Linked DNA regions of Homo sapiens: region 2 is linked to region 1. Evidence: fine-mapped expression QTL. A gene starts in region 1. The other region holds a variant in brackets. All regions are shown on one strand. Distances are between the middles of the regions. Region 1 holds the start of NEO1 (neogenin 1). Region 2 overlaps NEO1 (neogenin 1).

Evidence for each region. PIP is the estimated chance that this variant, and not a neighbour inherited with it, causes the effect. A credible set is the group of variants that fine-mapping cannot tell apart.
Region 2: its variant is the best candidate, but not a certain one, in a credible set for the expression of NEO1 in whole blood (INTERVAL, PIP 0.74).

What each region holds. Positions count from the first base shown.
Region 1 is chr15:73,049,533-73,054,916 of GRCh38, reverse strand. NEO1 (neogenin 1) reads right to left here and starts at 2,454. Exons shown (of 29, transcript NM_002499.4): 1 at 2,112-2,454. The coding sequence starts at 2,241. RefSeq lists silencers at 2,135-2,514, 2,745-3,064, 3,155-3,224, 3,285-3,334.
Region 2 is chr15:73,116,188-73,121,571 of GRCh38, reverse strand. It overlaps NEO1 (neogenin 1), which reads right to left. Exons shown (of 29, transcript NM_002499.4): 2 at 4,715-5,032. Among named protein-coding and RNA genes, the nearest start is that of NEO1, 66 kb to the right of the region's middle. The variant G/A (reference allele first, on the strand shown) is at 2,794.

The DNA of each region.
Region 1 (5,384 bases):
AAGTCTATCACTCTACAAAAATAAAAAAAATAAAACTACTGACAAAGGACATCTGATTTGCGGACAGCTTGTTCCAGTTGCTGCTTACTCAGTTCTCCAGTCTCTTGATCTCTTCCGCAGTTTTATGGCAGAACTGACCAACCCCTCCTTATTGCAGTTATTCCTCTCGCTTTTGTAATGAAGCAGAGCGGTTTACAGGAAGGACTCTGGACCGAGAATCAGGAGATCTATGTTCTAGACCCAATTAAACGACTAATTACCTGTGAGCCTCCCCACCTCCACTCCTACCCACTCCTCAGATCTCAGTTCTTGTGAGACACTCTTAACACCCAGACTAGGTTATGTCACTCCAGTACCCACTTTGTGAAAACCTATTCTCCTTTGTAGTGCTTATCACAATTACTTAATTATATAATCAGTAGATGGATGGCTATCTTTCCTACCCACACACCAGACTGTAAACTCCATGAAGGCAGAGAGCATATGCCTTGCACCTCATCTGTGCAAAATAAAAACCTGTCAATTGAGTTAATGTTGAAACAGATGTTAAGACCACTTCCTGAGACTGCTTGCATTATTTTTATTATCCTAAGTAATAAAATTACTAGCATTTTAGTTACTTACAAAATTATCGGCAAAACTTTAAACAAAAACTTGAAATTTGGTGAACTACATATGAATTTCCATATAAAATAGATCATGAGTAACAGGAACTTGTTTTCCAAAATAGTTATATTTCTCTTGCTCATCTAAGAGACAGTTGGATCAGTAACCTGCATTTCAGCACCAAAATGTGTTCTAAACCATATACGGACTGAATGTATAAGGGTACATCATGACATAAGTGATGTTTAATTTGACATTAAAACACTATTGTTTACGTAGCTGTTTAGAGAATACCGAGTGGTACTTTACGTTTAAAGCTGTTCTTTAACATTGGCAAAAGCCATGAGCTACATACACACTCTGCAAGGAAATGAAAAGTTTATCAGTCAAGTTACCTTGCAGTGTGATTTTAAATATTATTTCATATAAATCAGGGAAAAACAAGTACTGGTTCAGCGGTAAGACTGCTTTCAAATGTAAAAATATCATATCTCACACGAGTGAAAGTTTTGTCAAGTTTTATGGTACACCACCTTGGTCAAATAATTTTAACAGATTACATGCTAATTTGCCTTTCAACTGCTGAGTGTATCCTGCTCAACAATACCGTAAGGTCCTTCCCGGAAGGCTTGGCATTTTTGTTCGTTGGTCCCCTTAATAGGAATGCAGGTGGTTTCAGTAATCTATAATATTCCAAAAAAGAACTGAAAATGGCTTTTGAGGTTCAATGTTTATACAATGCCATCTGAAAACATTGTACAAGTACCTAAAATCTGATGCTTAGACAATTCCCTTGGTTAAGAGTGGTTAATAGGCTGTAAATATAGTTGTAATCCCCAGGAAAGAAGAGGCATTTCATAACGGAAACACTAACAGATACGATCACTCCGAGCCGCTCTCCAAGGCGTCCTCATCGTTAAATCAACACCAGGGGTTGTGAGCGGGCAATTGTGCCCCTCTGACACCCCCGCTCTTCCGCAGACTCGGGCTCCAATCCCCGCGCGAGGAGTCCCTCGAGACTAGCCAGCTCTTCCTCGAGACTTCGGAAGCTGGGAAATCCCTGGCCAGGGAACCAGGAGCTCAAGCCCCCTCCCCTTTCCTTTCCTGAAAATTAATGAATTGGCCGTCTGATTGTTTATTTAATGAGGTGTGTAGTGGCCTCTACTGGTGCTAGTGTGAGCACAAGAATGTCCCACTCTTACAAGTGGGATGAGCCTGGGGGAGGGGAGAGAGGCGAGGGGTGAACCTGCCTCCAGGTACAAAGCTGGGAACTAGACCCCTGCGCCCCCGACCTGCCCCCCGGCAGCCGCCCCTTCCCCGGTGGCGCCCCCTCTCGCCCTTCTCCTCCCCACCACGCGCGATCCCCTTTCTCTTCGGCAACCGGAGCCGAGGCAGAGAAGTTCCTGCACGTTTCCTCCTGGATCCTAAACAAAAACACCGCAGCCGCGGCCGCCTGAGCCGGTGCCGCGCCCCCGCGAACCCCCGGGCCCGCGCCCGCCGCTTACCTGGGGACTGCGGCGCGGAGCCGCTCCTGGCGGCCGCGGCGCCCGGCGCCCGGCGCCCGAGCAGCAGCAGGCAGTAGAGCCAGAAGGAGGGGGTGCTGAGGAGTCGCCGGGCTCCCCGCTCCGCCGCCATCTCTTCCCCGAGAGTGAGCGGCAGCGGCGGCGACAGCGCCGCGGAGCCCTTGCCTCCTTCCCTCCCGCGCGCCTCAGCCGGTCCCTCGCTGCAAGCTCGGCTCCCGCGGCCGCCGCTGCTCCAGCCCAGCCCGGCCCGGCCCGGCCCGCGCAGCCCCTCTCGCTGGAGGGGAGACTCCAGGGCGCCTCCCTCCTGCAAGGGGGCGGGGAGGGGAGGAGAGCGAAGAAGGGGAGTCAGTACATTCCGGGGCGGGGGGGGGGGGGCGGTGGGTCGGTCTCCAGGTTCCAGGCGCCGCCACCCGCCGCCGACTCCGGCTCCACACACCAGCGCGAGGGGGGCGGAGACCGCGGACGGCGGGGGCGGGGGCGGGGGCGGGGGGCGGGAGTCCCGGGCGCGCACACGCGCACGCGCGCGCCTCGCCCGCACCCCCTCGGCTCCGCGCGCGGCCCGCCCCCGCTCCAATCCCGGCTGCCGCCTCTCGGGCCGTGGCGGGCCCGCTCCCCTCCCCCTTCTCCCCGGAGCCGCTGACGGGTGCGGGGCGCGCGCGCCGGGCGCTGCTGCTGGCGTCAGGGAAACCCCGGAGAAGCGGATCCTCCTGCTCCTCCCGCCCGCTCGCCGCAGCCCCTCGGCTCCGCGCGCCCCCGCCTCCTCCTCCTCGCCTCGGGGACAAATTCCCCCCTCACCTCCCCAGATGCCTCTGGCTGCAGAGACCTGAGGGCGAGAGGCGCTCCGAGCTCAGGCTGGTCCGGGAGGCCGGCGTGGGCGCGCACCTCTGCACAGTCCGGGCCTGGAGCCTCTATATAGGGCCTCAGAGGAAACCGAAAGGCCTCCGGGAGGAAACCTGGGTGCGCAGTGGGTCGGCCCGGGGATTTATGTGCTCGCCAAAAACAATAGCGATCCCGCCCGACTCTTGCTGGGCCCTGGCGCGGCTCCCGTGGGAGGGGGCCGGCCGCGCAGCCGCTGACCTCCGGCTCCCAAGCCGGGCCGCCGTCGCCGCGCGCTTCCCCCGGGCAGCGCCGGGACCCGCCCGAACCGCGCCCCCACCCGCATCGCTCGGCCCGGGTCCAGGGAACTAGGCACAGACAAAGGTGCCCGCTGTCCACTTCCTCAGCTCGTGCGGGGGCCCCGACCGAGCCCTGGGACTCCCCGGGGCCAGTCTTCTCGCAGTAACTGCTACGTTTTACCTGTACCTTTGCGGGACACTTGGCGTTTTCCTACCTGGGAATCACGTCTTTCGCTGATAAACCAAGGAGCAAGTGGGATATGATTTTAAACCACTTAGTAATCGTGAGGCAGCACCCAGGCTACACAAAGTTAGGAGAAAGCAGTTTGTAGTTCCACTGCTGATGAGACTATTGATCATTTTATATACTGCACCCATGAAAAATTTTTAAAGAAAATTTATTTGTATGATTATGCAAGCAGAGTCACGTTTGGTGGTTGATAGGCGTTGGGTTTTATTCACTCTTCTGTGTAGTCGATAACCGAAATGTCTTGCTTCCCACAAGAAAATGGCTATTTCACTAACATATCCCTCTGTGCTTTCTCATAGTTACTTTCCAAAGATATTTTATTCTAAAGCGCCAAAATGAACAATGTAAGACATGGATTAACGTCGGGAGGGAAGAGCTCAGAATCTTCATAAAACCTTAAATCATCAAAACGGTGAAATTAGGAATTCTCATGCTAGTTCTTTGAAACAATTGACTTAATAGAGGAAACACATGCTTATGGTTTTTCACTAGGGAAACCATTTAAATACCTTTTTGTTTTGGTTAGAGTTGTTAACCAGCAAAAATATTTCCTAAATACCCGTGATTGACCTGTTAAATTAGAAATAGATTACCTCCCAATTACTTCACAAGTATTTGCTTAATTAACCTTTAATAATCACATCATTATTCAGTTTTCTGAGATAATTAATGAGAAAAGCTCTTTGAAAACTGTAAATTGCCTTGCAAATGTTAATTTCCTGATATCTTTTCTAAGTCTGGAAAAATTTCATTATATTAAACCTATAACGTGTAATATGACTTCTGAGATGAAGCTTACATTTATCTCCAAGTTTTGAAAAATACATGAGTTGTGGCTAATAACAGACTGATTTTCATATATGACTTATATGAACTGTCTCACTAATTTATCAGCCCACTGTGTATATCAGGTTAATATCAAAAAGTTTAAAACAGTTGTATATTTCTGGCTTCTGATTAAATCACAATTTTAATAAAACCCACTCTATTAAACCACTAGTAGATGGAGCCCCAGATTAAAGCTACAGATCCTAAATCAGTTCAAGATAGTTAAGTAACTCAGGCACACACTTGAATTCAGCTCCTTTACTTTGTTTCAAAGTCACTGACACTGTCGACATGCCCTTTAAAAATCATCATTGAGTAATTAACCTGTTCTTTGTTTAGTAAAGCATATCTGAGAAAAGATTTTCTTAGGCATCTCTTTTATCATTCTTATTCTCCCAACAAGATTTTCAACAAATACTTCAGCCTGCACGTATACTGCTAATCAACACTTTTATGTTGTCTAAACTATCAATCTATGAAGAGATATTAAACCACTGGTGAAATTAACAGTTTTTTCATCTAAGTAAAGTTAGAACATGAGGCCCATGTTCAAGGAATAAGTGCACAAAGAAACTTTAGAGCAAAGAAAACAGAGTGGCCATTGTGTGTCTGTAAAAGTTATCGAAATGCAGGCCAAAAATAACTAGACTGATATCTTGTGAAATTTATGCTAATGTATTTTGATATAAAAATTACATGAAATATTAAAGCCTATGAATATAAAACTTGGTAGGAATCTTATTCTCTATAGTAAAAGGATTTTTTTTTCAACATTAGAAAGGACGTACAATTCAGTGTTTAACTGCTGGCAGTAATGAGATTCTGCAGCTGATTCCCTGGCTGAATCCCAGTGTCCGAGGTTGAGAAGAAGAAAGCTAGTCCCCTGACTAGCAGATCTCAGGATAGAACACTTCCTAGTCACAGCAGACTTCAACTAGAAGTTGCCCCAGTCTTAAGAAAGTGATTTTCTTCTGCACAGAGATTGTTATTTTTATATTTGCCCTTTACATTCCACTAGGTAAGAATTTTTATTTTCTCCCGTTCTCCTTCAGAAGCCACCTG
Region 2 (5,384 bases), 67 kb before region 1:
TATTTACAGAGTATCAAAGTATCTCTTCCCAAAATACTCATTATTAACTAACAAAAGTACCAAGCTTTACAATGGAGAAACACTGCACAGACCATCTTAAGTAGTAAAAGTTAACATCACCAGCAACAGAACAAAATATCACATGCTTCTTGGCATGATGCACTGAGAACACAGCATTACTTCTGTGGTATTTCTCCCAAAAATGAGGAATCTGAATCTATTCAGGGAGAAATCAAACAAACTCAAAATGAGGCAAGGAAAAACCAAGTTATATCTAAAGAGTTTTAAAGGACACAGCCACCAAGTGAAATATGTAATCTTGGGCCAGAAATAAGAGTATGTGTGGGAGGAGGACAGGCGGGTACTCTGCTTTTGGTTTTTACTATAAAGAACATTATTGAGATAATCAGTGAAATCTAAATTAAACAGTAGTATTGTATTAAGGTTAATTTCCTAATTTTGATGGACATCTGTGGTTATCTAGGAGAATGTCCTTGTTTCAAAGAAATATACACGTAGGTATTTAGGTGGCAGTTACAGGAAAACCTGTCTGCAATTTACTCTTACTGGCTCCGAAAAAATATGTCTTTGGATGTATGCATTTTTGGGGGGTTAAGGCAGATACGATAAGATGTTAACAATCAGGTAATCTAGGTGAAGGTATATGAGATTTCTTGGTTCTATTCTTGCACCTACTCCCTACGTTTAAAATGATCTCAAAATAAAATGTGAACCAAAAATGTCGTCATAAATATAGACGCCACAGGATGTAGCAGCTAAGAGCATCAGTTTTCAAGTCACATATCTGAATCTGAATCCCAACACCACCACTTCATGGGTGTCTGAAGTTGGCAAGTTATTTAACCACTCCCTAAGACTCAGTTTCTTCACAAGTAAAATGAGAATAACAGGCCTCACAGGATTGTTAAAAAAAAAAAAAGTACTTAAAATAAATAATTTATATATAGTATATTGCATAAACACTTAACTAGCTATTATAATATCTAAAAAGTGATTGCTATGCTCAGAATAAAACAATATGTTTCTTTAAGGAAGAGCAAACAAATCATGAGAAATGATTACAGGTTTTCTAGTTTTATGATGGTGAATTAGTCCAAACATAAATCACACAGGTTTTACAGCCCTGCAATAAACTTTTTCTTTTTCTTATTTTTTTTTTATTTCAAGGGGATTTTTGAAGGAAAAAAATAAAGATAAAATTATCTAAAAAATCTGCTTTTTTACCTTGAGCTCCCCAGATTTGACCAAAAATCTACTTTTAAGAAACCAGAATATCAGAAGATAAGAATTAACAAAGATAAACACAGAATTTGATCAAGTTGGGGAAAGGAGGAAATCTTAATCAATAAAACCAAAATATGGTTCTATTTTAATTAAATTAAATTAAATTAAATTAATTAATTAATTTTTTTTATGAGACAGAGTCTCACTCTGTCACCCATGCTGGAGTGCAGTGGCACAATCTTGGCTCACTGCAACATCTGCCTCCAGGGTTCAAACAATTCTCCTGCCTCAGCCTCCCAAGTAGCTGGGATTACAGGCGGGCACCACCATACTGGCTAATTTTTGTATTTTTAGTAGAGATGGGGTTTCACCATGTTGGTCAGGCTGGTCTCAAACTCCTGACCTCAGGTGATCCGCCCGTCTTGGCCTCCTATAGTGCTGGGATTATAGGCGTAAGCCACTGCGCCCAGCTCAGTTGTATTTTTAAAGAGTCAAAAAATTCTTCCTCCTGAGGTCTCATGAAAATTAATAATTTTTAAAATGTAAGCTCACAAAAACATATGGAGAATTGGCAGACAAGAGATTTCAAAAAATTTCTGAGTAGGGAAAGCAGATGGAGGACTAGTAACTGACATAACAAGGCAGGGAACGCTGCAGCTTCCTGCGCTCCCAAGAAGGAAGCCGGTTGTCCTGCTGCCTCTGGAGAACTGCAGGAGAAAAAGGAGAGTGGGAGTTAAGACCCGGAGTTGACAAGAAGATATTAACAATGTCTGTATTTAGAACACCCTATTACCCCACCTCTGGGCACAAAATACTCACAGCCAGCATACTGCCCAGGCAGAAAAACAGAAATTTTGGTTGTGGAGAAATGAGACAGCTCAGAGAAAAAGACCTCTCATACTTAATTCTATGAGTTACCTATTTAATGTTCTTTCAAAAACTTCCCTTCTTGCTTGACTTGGCTACAATCAGTTTCTACTGCTTGCAACCAAAAAACTCTAAGTCTTTTAGATTGGCAATTTGGCAGAATTTTTTTAGGTTTTATTGAGATGTAATTTATATACCATAAAGTTCACTATCTAAAGTACATAATTTAATATTTTTTAGTATATGAACAAAGTTGTGTAATCATCACCATAATCTAATTTCAGAACCTTTTCATCATTCCGGGAAGAAATCTTGTACTCACTTGCAGTCACTCTGCATAACCCATAACTACCCCAGGACACCTACAAGTGGAACTGCTAGGTCATATGGTAACACTATGGTTAACATTTTGAGGAACTGACAAACTAGTACCTTTTAATTGCGCGCACACACACACACACACAGTGTATCCTATGATCCAGCAATCCCAATTCCAGTAATCTGTTTTACAGAAATAAAGATTTGCAGAAGGCAGTTCACTATAGTATTGCCTATAACATCCAACAATTTTAATCCATTTAATTGTTCATCAATAAAGAAATCTTTAAATAAATCACAGTATGTATATCTAGACAATGTATACCATGCAACTATTTAAAAGAACTTTTATTTAATCCCTTA[G/A]CTTGGGCACTATTTACTCCTGATACCTAGGGCCAAGAGTGGTTTAAATAACTTTCCTACAGAACCCTGTATGCAGTCATCACAGAATGTATCACCTTCTACGGTGCTGCTTGCTTAGATACTGGGTCAAAAAAATGCTTCCTGAAGGTATCAAAGAGGAAGAATGGACAAACTTAGCAGAGGAGAAGAAAGTGAGGAAAAGGTGGAGGATAAAATTAACAGGCAGTGGGGATGCCATGAGCAAAGGCTGGAAGGCAGAGAATAAATGAAAGGAAACAAAACAGTACTGCCAGTGCTTAAAACTGTGGTGAGGGTGATGGTGGATGTAGGGGACGGGGGTGGGGACAGAGGCAGGGTGAAATGTTAAGAAATAAGGTTGGAGAAGTGGAGGACAGCTCATAAAAGGAATCAACAGGCCTGTTATTTAAGAGTTAGATGTTACCTTGATGGTGTTACTGGAGGATCACTGAAGGGTGAGAAAGAGTACTCTAGACAGGGTGGAGACTGGACTGGAGGAGGGGAAGAATAAGGTAGCAGGCAGATGCTTATAAGGCTGTGGTGAGGGAAGACTGGGAGTAGCCTCGGGAAGGAGAAAGTGGATTAAGTACAGAGAAATTACTAAGCAGAATTCACTGGATTTGATGATAGTATATGGGGGGACAGCCGAGAGGAAGGAGCCCATGAATAAAGCCCAGATAAGAGATATTTAAGAACTTAAATTATAAACAGACACTGACCTAAGTGACGTTGTAGAGGCAGTCATTATACTAATTTATTTATGAAACATGTTGGAGAAAGCCTGGCAAATAGATTATTTTTTAAGGGAGAGAGAAGAAAGAAAAGAAAAGGAAGAAAAATAAAAAGAGGAAAGAAGGAAGCAAGGAAGGGAGGGTAGAAGGGAAGGAGGGAGAGAAGGAAGGAAAGAAAAGGGAAATTGGCAAAAGGACCCATTTTTTTCTTCTTTTATTTTTCCATCCTCAATCTATGATTATGGAATAATTACAGAAACTTTGTCACACCCAAATTCAACTTTGAGTATTTGTCCCCAAAGAGGAAAAAAACCAGCCATTATGCTCTGAATGTATAAGCAAATATACTCTGGAGTGAGCATGAGATGGGAAACCATAATCCTGGAGTAGGAATGAGATGGGAGACTACTGTCTCTGAGGTTCTGTCTCACACGTGGGCGTTTCACCAAGGTGAGAGTAAATACAGGACTTAAAGATAACATTTTTGTATAACATGACCCTTCACAAAAACTATTTCATCTGGTACTCAAGTAAAGAAACACTATCTCAGGAACGCTAGTATCTACTACAAAACAGACATGACTTACTTAGAAACCACATCTTACTCTTCAAGATCCCTAATTTTTCTTACACTTTCCATCATTCTTCAAATAAGGATACTCTGAAAAGGAGGGAAAGTTCCTCTCTTTATAACTTTCTGCTCTCCACCTTAATATACACTCTGTAGATTTTAAAACAATTAATCCAATTGAATGTCATTTCCTTGGTTAAGGCATCAAGGAACCAGGATTCTGACTTTACTGCAAGTTTTACAAAACCATACTAAATGGTTATGCTGGGTAAGATAGAAGTTGGCCGTCAAAGTGATTTAATTTTCCTATACCACTTCCTCTGCCACTTCCAAGTTTAAAAGGAGAAAAGAACTGCTCAGTACTTCTGATAGCAATATTAAGCCATCAGACAAGTGGAAACACGCTACAGTTTATTCTCTACGGCACTGAGCAAGCCCTACAGCAAGGTCCCATACGCAGAGTATATGCACAATTGATATCTGTTAAATGAGTATATTTGTTGCTACTAATTAAAAGAAAACTCCAAGAGAACAGTGCTTTTATCAAGATGTATGTTATAAATATTTGAAAATGCAAAAAAAAAAATCACTTAAAACTTACCTGCTACTATGAGCTTCGCTGTTCTACTGATAATAGTTCCAAGACTCTCAACAGTGGCCACACACTGATAATAACCTTCATCAGGTTTATTGTGTTTGGAATGCACCACATTGCTGATAAATAAAGATCCATCCGGGAGAAGCTGGCGTCGATCATCTGATACTAAGTTTAAAAAAGTTCCATCTTTTTTCCATTCAATTTTTGGAGAAGGCTCAGAATATGCTGAACAGTTTAATATAACAGAAGAGCCTCTAACTGAGAGTGTATCCACCGGCTCCACCAGAAAATAAAATGGAGTGAACGTTCGAATGCTGGCTCCTACAAAAATAAAGAAAAAGAACAAAGTTAAGCAAATCTCTCTTCTATTATTTGTCAGAAAATATATTACTAACAAGTCCAAAAATTATTAACTGTTGTTCTTTGAATGTGACACATAAATATAGTCATCTCACTACAAATGTCTAATAAATAAGATTTACTTTCAAGTAGGAAACCAAACTTTGAGCCATTTAGAAGAACATTAGGGGAAAAAAAAACCTTCTACCTGAGATAAACAAGCCTTGTTAAATGACATGAGTATCTAATAAAAGTTTTATTTCAAACCCTAGAATCAGATTTATAAATACTTTAAGTTACTGCATTCAAAGTGAAATTCTCTGTTGAACATAAA